Regions from separate parts of the Homo sapiens genome. Here region 2 is linked to region 1. The links come from fine-mapping of genetic effects on gene expression. A gene starts in region 1. The other region holds a variant in brackets. All regions are shown on one strand. Distances are between the middles of the regions. Region 1 holds the start of PON2 (paraoxonase 2). Region 2 holds the start of LOC107986823 (a long non-coding RNA gene).

Region 1 (5,386 bases):
TGATCCTCCCACCTGGGCCTTTCAAAGTGCTGAGATTATAGGCAAGAGCTACCTTGCCAGGCCTAAATTCTGATTTTGTATCTGAGGCTCTTCTCTTCCTCAATAATTGACACCAAAAATAGTCCTAGAAAGGAGATTCCACCCTTCTCTAAACAGTCATAGCCTTAGCCTATGTCAGAGTTCTTAACCCAGTGGTCCATTGATAGTTCAGAGGAATTAATGACCTTGGATAAGAAAAAAAAAATCTTGATTTCAAATGGAATTTAGCATTTTCTTCAATTACAAAACTAGCAGACAAACCTCAGAAGCATTTGCAGTACTTGTGACTGTTACTAATGGAAATAACAGTTATTTTCATTATTTCATTATAGTTGTTTTCAGTATCATGAAAGAACATTTGCACTCCTCTTTATTTAAAAGAATGTTGCTAGATCTTGTTATTTAATATGTTAAATAATGTTGCACACATTACATTACCACATTACTATAGCAAAAAATTATGTTTTAGATATTTTAACAATTACATTTCAATTGTTGACCTTTAATTTTAAAGCTAAGGCAAAATTAATGTAAGTAGAGAGTTTATTTGGGCCAAGTTTGAGTACTGCAACCCAGGAGTATAGATTCAAGTTTCCCTAAATATACACTCTGATTAGCAGCAGTTACACATAGATTTTTAAGGGGAAGGAAGAGGCAGTTCCTAAATTCCTTGCGTTAAAATAACATAAGCTGTGGATTGGTTATACTTTGTTCTTTGTATCATAAATTCCAGGAATATGAAGATAATGGGTGGGACAGCTACTCGGGAACAAAATGTCTTTAAACAACTGTCCCCAGGCATGGGTATTGGGGCGTGACTGAAGTCCCATACTCATGTCGCTCTGGGCCTGATAAATTTTGCATACCTCACAAAGCTCAGACTGCTCTCAGCTATTTTTTTTCCTTACAATGTAATTGATTTTCTTTGCAATCTATACATTTTATTCATTTATTTAAAATTTTTTTTTCTTCTTTCTTTTTTTCATGAACCGCACAGAGAAAATTTATGCATTTTATTGTAAGCATTTATAAACATTATTCTAAGAAGTTATCCACAGGCTCACCACTGCCAGAAGGGTCCACGACACAAAAAAGGTAATGCCTCATGGGCTTTCAAAGGACAACTTTTTACTTCTCTTTCTACCATCCAGTATAATCCAATATCCTTAGGACTGAAGCAGAGATACACACACACACAGGGAGAGAGGTGTTTGTGCTTTTTTTTTTTTTTTTTTTTTTTGGTGAGAGGCAGGTGGGAAATTGGCATCCACTTTTATTTACTGGTTCTTTATAAAACTGATATTTGTTGAAAATTGTCAAGTGTGACCATTTCTGCCTACATATTGTAGGGTGGCAATTAAATACCGAAAACCATTAGAAGCTTATTTCAGATGTACTCATTTATTGTAATGGTATCAATCTTGATGGGTAAATTTCATTTTACTTTTAAAATTGTATTTTAAATTATTCCTTCATGTTACGGTTGTTAGAGTAAAAACGGAAAAGAAAAAAACTACACTTCTTCCCTTTGAGTTTGGATGAAAAAGACGTGTCTAAGTCCTTAAGTCTGTAGTCTGGAAGTATTAATAGAGGCTGGGCATGGTGGCTCATTCCTGTAATTCTAGCACTTTGGGAGGCTGAGGCAGGAGGATGGCTTGAGTCCAGGAGTTTGAGACCAACCTGGGCAACACAGCAAGACTCGGTCTCCACACACACACACACAGACACACACACAACTTACACACACTTAGCTAGGTGTAACGGTACGTGCCTGCGGTCCCAGCTACTCAGGAGGCTGAGGCTGGAGGGTCCCTTGAGTCCGGGAGGTCCAGACTGCAGTGAGCTATGATTGTGCCAATGTACTCCAGCCTAGGCAACACAGCGAGACCCTGTTAAAAAAAAAAAAAAAAAGTATTACGAGGCACAGGATGTTTATTTATTCGCAACTACGTCCTGTTATAAAAAGTAGTGATTCCAACGTGAAATATTTACACGACGCATCCCGTTACTTTCCCTCCCTTGGCCACCGACCCCCATCCCCAAAAGCTGCTTTCTATGTAAGTTTCTCACTGGAATAGCGAGTGAGAAATGTGTTTGAAGACTAGGGAAACGAGAAAGGTATGCGGGCTGCTAGAGGGTTTCGGGTGGGTTGTTTGAAAAAGGAAGTGAAGGAATTCAAAGTTTCACATCATGAGCCTAATGTAAGGCGTGTCCGGGCCGTCCCGAAGGTATCTGGGGAAATAGGTTTGTGAGGACAAAGACCAGGGCCAGGCCCAGGGCGGAGCCTCCGCGGCCCCGACGCAGGGACTCGGCCTAGGCGGAGGACGGGGCGGAGCGCGGCCGGCACCATCGAGCCGGGAAGATGGCACCGCCCACGGAGCTGCTGGCCAGGCCGGAGCGAGGCAGCGCGCCCGGCTCCCGCGCCATGGGGCGGCTGGTGGCTGTGGGCTTGCTGGGGATCGCGCTGGCGCTCCTGGGCGAGAGGCTTCTGGCACTCAGGTAGGTGGGACTCCCGCGCGCCCCTCCTCGGCGGTCCCCAGGCTCGGGGTGGCCGCGTGGTGCGGGGAGGGCGCAGGCTGGGGGAGGGATTCCTGCGGGACCTGGCCCTGCGGCCGGGGGTGGAGAATTTTTGAATGCTGTCCCTCCCCCAGCTAGTTGAACCCCCATCACCCCGACTCTCCGCTTCTAGTGAAAAAACTAGCAAAGTTTGGAGTGAATCGCGACACTTTCTTGAAAGTTTATAAGCCCTTGCTGCTAACAAAGTTCTCTTCTGCTTAGGCTGACAAGAGAATGCTTTGCAATTACCCAAGGGCCAAACTAGTGGTTTAAATTGAAAACAAAATGACTACTCATGCATTGAAACCTTAACTATGAAGATTTATTTCAGGTCATTGGTGCTGTTTCTCCTTGTTGCCCAAACCAGACCCGTCTTTAATAAAGTTGTTCTCCACCCATTTCTGCATAGTTTGAGAAACTCTTCAGCTGTAGATCAAAGACACTTGAAATATTCAGCTACTGTTCTTACTTCCTATTTATTCACCAGGGAAGCCTGAAGCCAGAATGCCAGACAGCGCAGACACTATTCCATCTCGCATTTTAGTTTTAATGAAAATCTCTGGTAGGTAGACATCATCGTTTATAAATTACCAACTCAACGTTTGTTTTTTGTTTATTTTATTTTTTGTAGAGATGGGGTCTTGCTGTATTGCCCAGGCTGTTCCCTAACTCTTGCACTCAAGCAATCCTCCAGCCTAGGCCTCCCCACAGTGCTGGGATTACAGGTGTGAGCTGTTCTGCCCTGCCTCAACCAAAATTTTATAGGCCTCATGCAAAAGAGTTCCAGAAAGACTGAGCACCTGCTATGTGTAATGTTCTCTCTTAGGCTTCTATAGTAGAGTACGACCCTTATGGAGTTTGATACAGGGGAAGAGAGAATTAAAATACAGTAAATGTATAAATTAGGATGTTCTAAGGACAGACACAAATGAACCGCATAGGCTTAAAGAGGAAAGATTCCATCCCCTGAGGGTGGAGTTCTAGAGGGAGGAAGAGACATTCGACCTGACCTTGAAGGGTGGGTGCAACACATATGAGCATGAAGGGGCCCATGCCAAATGTATAGTGCAGCAGGAGCAAAGGGGCTAAGGTGGGAAGTTGGAAGACTAGCAAATGGGCCAATTTGAAGGGAGCATAAAGTCAGGAGATGAGAATAGTAGGGTGGTGGGAAGGATAGGTTTTGAGGCCATTAAATATAAGTTGAAAAATGGGGCCCCACTTTCATAGGCCCAATAGTGCTTCAAAAGGGAAATATTGGTGGGTTTTGCTTTTCAACAAGAACTTAATATAACTAGTTGTGTTTTATAGAGATAAGCCTGGAAGGGGGGATTGGAGGAGAGCAATGGTTCTCTGTACATTAGAATCTCCTGGAGGGCTGGTGTCTGAGTGGCACCACCAAAGATTCTGATTCAGCTGTTCTGGATCAGAATCTACAGCTCACACCTGTAATCCCAGCACTGTTGGAGGCCTAAGCCAGAAGATTGCTTGAGCCCAGGAGTTAGTGACAGGCCTGGGCAACATAGCAAGATCCCACCTCTACAAAATGAATAAATAAATAAATAAATAAATAAAAAACAAAATTTGAGTTGGTAATTTATAAACTATGGTGTCTACCTACCAGAGATTTTTCGTTATAATTAAAATGTGATATGGAATAATGTATTGTTTGGCAAGCTGGCTTCAGGGTTCCCAGGTAAATAGATAAATAAGGAAGTGCATAATGTAAGAACAGTGGCTGACAGTAGCAGTGGCATTTTTTATTTTTAAAAACATTCCTGATAATTCTAATGAGCAGTCAAGGTCGAGAACTACTAGAATAGAGAGCAGACATGGGGTAACTGGTTAAGGTATTGCAGTAGGTCAGAGAGGATAACAGGGACCCAAACTCTGGAACCCCAGGGATGAGGGAGAAGTCAAAGGTGCTACCAGAGTTTGTGCCACAGCTCCACTGTCCCATGGTTGTAGTTTCATCTACTGATAAAGCAGTGCAAAGAGGAAGCGTGTGGTGGCTGAGATGGGAGTGAGATTTGAGGAAAGAACGCTTATGGGTAGGAAATGGACATGTTGACCTTAATTTTCATGTTAGGTAATGCCCATTGTGCTCTACAGAACATTCATGAGTTGGATGACTTTGTATATGATCTGTCCTGCTCTCCATTTCAAAGGCAAGACCACCAAAATTCACAAGCTTATTATGTTGTCACTAATGTGTAAGCCACCAGTTTTTCTGCAAGTTGGAAGTTTTCTCAACAGTCAAATATTCCCCCTTCTCACTAATCTTAAGGTTTTAAAGTTATAGCTGCAAATCTAAAAAAAAAAGAAAAAGTAAATAAAACTTATTGACAGAATGCCTGATAGTTTATTTACAGGTTTTTGTTTGTTTGTTTTTTGTTTTTCTTTGTTTTTTATTTTGACACAAGGTCTTGCTCTGCCGCCCAAGCCAGAGTACAGTGGTACATCAAAGCTCACTGCAATCTCAAACACCTAGGCACAAGCAGTCCTCCCTCCTCAGCCTCCTGAGTAGCTGGGACTACAGATGCATGCTACCATGCCCAGCTAGTATTTTTATTTCTTGCAGAGACAGGGTCTCACTTTGTTGCCCAGGCTAATCTCAAACTCCCAGCCTCAAGTGATGCTCCTGCCTCAGCCTCCCAAAGTGGTAGGATTATACACATGAGCCACCACCCTCGGCCTACTTTACAATTTGATGCACCTTTTCTTTACGTGACTGTGATGCACTTTAATGGGCAGTGACTTTATAAAATGGTAACTTTATTGGATATGTGGAGCC
Region 2 (5,386 bases), 35 kb before region 1:
CCTAAATTATGCAAACACCGTGGGATGGGAAGTGCACGTTTCTGGGTGGACCAGAGCTGAAATGTTATACATAGACCTGTGTTGCTCCTGAGGAGTGCTCCTTGGGGCTAGCTGCAAATCCAGCTGAGGTTAACCGCGTTTTATCATACTGCAAAGAAGCTCCCTTGTAGTTAACCCTGCTGTGGAATTCAGAGCCTGTCCTGAGCCTTTTTGCTTGAGGCTATGCACGTGGACCTTGGCAGAGCATCATTAAAACCCCTATTAGTGAGAGTAGACTGCTTTTCCCTGTGAGGAAAAGTATTACATTGCAGTAAAATGCAAATCCACTAACAGGCAACTGCAGATTTATAGCACTGCAGTTCCACAGGAATCACAGGGAGATAGAACCTTGTTTCCCCCGGCAGATTGGAGTTACTAGTGTGTACAAATTGCCCAGAATTCCACACAGGACCAGGTACATAATTTGCAGGGCCCAGTGCAAAATGTTCAAATATTATTGAGATTTGTTCAAATAGTATTGAGATTTTCAAGATGGCGGCAACAGATCATTCGTCTAAGCATCTGGTCATTCTGAACACAGGGTCCTGTGCTACTGCCCAGATTCTATGTGTCATTGAAAAATGGCACTTTCAATTTTGGACACATTTTTGGGGAAAGAATGTAAGTGCAGATATAAACCTTGTTAACCCAATTCCTTCAGCCTGGGGACACCCACACATTGGTAGATAATCAAAATGGCATGAGCTACTGAGCCCCCACCTAGTGTCATTATTGATATTGTAAGTCCCCTCCCACCACCACACACACCCACTGACCTCCTTTTGCTGTGAGTATGAGGACACTCACACTCCTCCTCTGATCCTTATGTTTTTTTGCTTTGTATTCAGTAAGAAATGGAATAGCACAATACTTAAGCGTATAGACTCAATACTACTAGTAGTTGTGCACCCTTGGGCAAGTTATTTAACCTCTGTGTGGCTCGGTTTCTTCATCTGTTAAAAAAAGCAGATAATAATAGTACCTGCCTAAGAAAGCATAGTGTTAGCACACATAAAATACTTAGCATTGTCCCTGGCACATGGCAAATGCTCTGGAGGTGTTAGCTGGTATTAACCTGCTACCTTTGCCCCAGCTGCAGTCAACTCCACTGTTGCCACCACTGCTGTCCTCTAAAGTCCTAATGTTCATGTAAGGGCATTCCTTTATGAGAAAAGAGGGCATTAAGCTAGGACCTCAATTAAGGGCCAAAATTAGACAATTATTGTTTATTTCCAAATGAGTTTAGATACATACTGTCACAGAAGTACACTGACAGTGTTGGAAGAGCCTTCAACTCTCATACAAATATAATTGCTAATAGGTGTAAACATTTTAACTACAACAGAAACCTATTTTGACATGTCTTCATTTTAAAATATACCTGGAGTCTGGAAAAATAGAGGTGGCCTTAGCAGTGTGGAAGGTCCCTGAAGCAACCACTCTTGATCATCCTCATTTTTCCTTTAATTATAAGGGCAAGAACAGAATTCACATTGTTTTGCAAATGAGGAAGCGTGCAGGAAAGAGGACAATAGCAATGGCCCTGGAGCTCTGGGGAAGCAAACCTGACTCAGACACCAACTCTGTTTTCCATGGGGCAAGCCACATCATTTGAAGGGGACGTGCGTCTTTTTTCCTGTAGAATGCAGTTCATAATGAGGGTCCTCCCTAGGTCATGGTGCTGCTGGCAATTGTGCAGGATATGGACATTAGAAAACACACTTAGAAATGAGCCAAGGGGACAGAAAAATGAGAAACATTTTGAGGAAGCAAACAAGAACGAAATCAATATGGCATCAACTAAATCATTTCAGGCATCAAGGATGACTGAAAATGGAAATATGGAATAAAGTAGGAGTTGAATTTAGGGCTCTGAAGGAAAACAAAGTAAAAGTTAAACTTACTTTGTAAACAGGGAACCACCCGGAGAGTTATTATGTTAATTTCTTTCTCTTCTTTGGTGGTGGCTTAAAAGAATTTTGAATAAAACATGTAAGTATCTTTCCTAATGGGGGGAAAAAAGAAAACCCTACCTTTCATTTCAAATGAGTTAATGGATGGGACAGTGCCTTGAAAAGTCCTATTATGAAACCAGCCAGAGCATTATCAGCCTTTCTTCTTAGATTCAGTCGCCACAGCTGCCAGGCCTGTCCAAACAGCAAACAGGAAATGAGAAAGG[A/T]TCTGACACCACAGCTTCAGAGAGTTCTTACCGACCTCCTGGAGGTGTGGGGGCGGACAGAGAATCTTGAGCAAATATGTGTACTTTCCACTTTATTGATAAAAATATACTTTTATTGCACAAGATTTATCAAAGTGGCCCTGTCTACAAGTGTTTGTTCATTCTTTTAAAACATTTTTAATGGAAAAATTGCATTTTATTTGCTTAGATCTATGGATTAAGAGTTTTTTTTAAAAAAAGCATAAAAGTTCCTATTGCAGCAAATGATCAAAGAGAGCTGATTTCCTCCCATAGCTGTTCCTTCAGGTGTTTTTTATTCTGAAAGGTTATTTTCCTCTTCTTTTCAAAATGGTGCTCAGAATGAAAAGGCAATCTGTATTTAAATGTTTGCTTTATATTTCCTTTGTTATTCAAGAAATTGTGTGTGCCTGGACATTTAGTGTTCACATTACACTTATAAGAAAACTGGAACAAGTACTCTGAAACTGTATATCTGTAATTTGGGAGAATGTGTTTAAATTTAAAAAATAAAACTTTTTCCAGGAAGAGGCTCTATGCACAGTATCAGGATGGGGCTACTCCATTCAGAATCTGTTGCCATGGTGACCGACCTGGGAGCCTCGTGGGCTCTGTACAGGAGGCATGTGTGGTAATTATATAAGCTGAAGTGCTGTTGAATAACCCCAGGAAGGCAGGACTGCCACAGTGCAATTTCTCGGAAACCACTATTTAAAAATTCATACATCATAATGCCTTCTTCTTTTATATGAAAATCCGCCATTTAAGTATTTTTCTTACATCAATCTGATAAGACTGATATAACGGAAAATAGAACTTACTCAATTCTGAGCGTATAAAGTATGCCAAATGAGCTGCATTATATACTAACGAATTTATTTCCAATAACTTTATTTTTTATGAACGAGCAATGAACCAACAATTAAATGCATTACTGTTGTTCTCATAATAAGCCATATGACTTACTCCTTTTCTTTAATATGTAATATATAATAATTATAAAAGTATAAGTAGGCAATTGATTGAAACAATAAATCAATGCCATTTTTAATTGAATAAACAAGTGAAATTAGTTAAGCATGAAGTGCAATCAATACATATTTTCCGATAAAAAATGGAAAATTTTCTCATTCCTGTTCACATTTAACATTTTACATTGTCACATGTAGGTCACAGGCCACACTTGTAGGAGACAGATCATTACCTGACACATAGGAAATTGGTTTCTGGTGATGATGTAATGTTATTCTTTCATTCAACAAATTGTTATTGAATGAGGAAAACTAAATGTTTGATCTTAGCAAGTCTTTTTGCCTCCTCAGGCCTTCAGTTTCCTCATCTGAGGGCCTTTTGACCTCAAAAATTCTATCATTCCAGAACTCACAAGATAAAATTGTCTGCATGTCAGTTGTTTTATAATTTTACTTTGAAGCAACAGAACAACTGTTATGTACTGAGTGTATTCTAACACTGTGACAGACATTTAACTGATATTACCTGTAGCACTGTAAGGTAGACACTGCTTTCCCATTTAACAAATGAAGACACAACTTATATAATTTAAATCTGCCCAGCTCCAAACAAATGGAATGAACTTTGTATTGCCCCATGCTGCCCATACACTGGTGAAGAAACTTCAACTCTCTTACAGATAAATTATTTTTTGTACTGATAAAGAAATGGAAAGTATGATTGTACAACATGTTCAAAAACTCTAAGAGCACTGATTTTTTAAAATTTTTAAAGAACCCTGGAATCAAAGCAACAAAAGACTAAATTGAACTGTCACAAAACAGGGATTTCCAGATTCATCCAAAGGCAATGAGATGCAGAAAGTGGATGCTACTTATTGTAAGAACAATGCTAAAAACAGGACTTGGACATGCGTTTACTGCTCATTAGTACCCACTTACGTCTAGTCATACACAAGTGATTAATCATGGCTCTATGTCTGATCAATTGAATTTTGTACAAAATTAAATGACGGTTAAAAATAATCATTGTAATGAGCACTTAAAATGACAGATATGACTTAGTGCAGGGTTTCTTCATTAACTTGAGTGTTTTTCCTACTACTCTTCTGAAAGTGCTTTCTCTCTCCCTGTATTTGAAGATGTGGCTGATAATGATGTTACCATTCAGGTGTCCACATTTATTTGTGAAACCATTGTGCGTTCCACAAGCTCCCTCCATTACATGCATGGTCTTCTGTTCAGTGGTTTTACATACTTTTTACTGAATTAGTACTGGCCCTTTCCTGTTCTGTTCATAGAAGAGGCCCCCCCACATGCTTTACAAGTCAATGAATGCAATTTCTGCCTCTTTATCCTGGAGACTTTTTTGCCTCAAGTCTCAGTGTTATACCCCATCTTGGTTTTTGTTGTGTAAAAGAGTGGACTGATGACAGATTTCATTTCCCAGAATTTATTACCTATTGTGTATATTGCAGTTCATTCACAATGACTCCATCTGCATTTAGGTTGAATGGGGCCCCCCCCAACCCAATTTAATAAAAAAATAATGAGGCCACTCAAAGCTCATAGATGTGTCAGCACTATGAAAAGGCTCTATAATCAATGCAAATGTGATGTTTTCCTGCTTTGTGGAGCACAGAGGTTTGACACCCATCTCTTTTGCTGGATCAAATCAGGCTCCCTCTTTGCTTTGAGAATCTAATGAAAGGTATGGGCTCTCTTCTTCCCTCAAAAAAAAATGTATGTGGCTGCATAATTTATTGAAATGTTAATTGGTGAGTTGTTTCATGCTGGAGTTTTCCTCTCTCCTGCTCCAAGAATGTGGTCAAGCCTCTTGAGATGTGAATGGTGACCCTAAGGTTGTGCAGAGCATAGACTACAATCCATTTATGCAAGCCCCGCTGGAAAGTTCAGGAACCTTTGCACTGCCCACAGGTGGGGCTAGGAGAGTATCAGCAATGACTGAGCTTAGATTTTCTCCCATCCAAGACACAACGGTGGCTTGAGATCAAGTTAAATTTGATTTAAAATGTATTAAGTAATATGTTTTTGCACATGTGTGTAGGTGTAAGTTCACATCTTCTGTATAGGTCTATAAACACATACATACACACACACACACACACACACACAATTTTACAATGTTTCTGAGGACTTGTGATCTCTGTCCTCTAGC

What was found. PIP is the estimated chance that this variant, and not a neighbour inherited with it, causes the effect. A credible set is the group of variants that fine-mapping cannot tell apart.
Region 2: its variant is the best candidate, but not a certain one, in a credible set for the expression of PON2 in whole blood (TOPMed, PIP 0.72).

Annotation. Positions count from the first base shown.
Region 1 is chr7:95,432,030-95,437,415 of GRCh38, reverse strand. It overlaps PON2 (paraoxonase 2), which reads left to right and starts at 2,388. Exons shown (of 9, transcript NM_000305.3): 1 at 2,388-2,538. The coding sequence starts at 2,465. RefSeq lists an enhancer at 2,031-2,601 and a silencer at 2,276-2,705.
Region 2 is chr7:95,467,492-95,472,877 of GRCh38, reverse strand. LOC107986823 (a long non-coding RNA gene) reads right to left here and starts at 2,066. Exons shown (of 3, transcript XR_001745286.2): 1 at 1,944-2,066; 2 at 816-1,723. It also overlaps a transcript of ASB4 not described here. RefSeq lists enhancers at 2,271-2,320, 1,229-2,428. The variant A/T (reference allele first, on the strand shown) is at 2,219.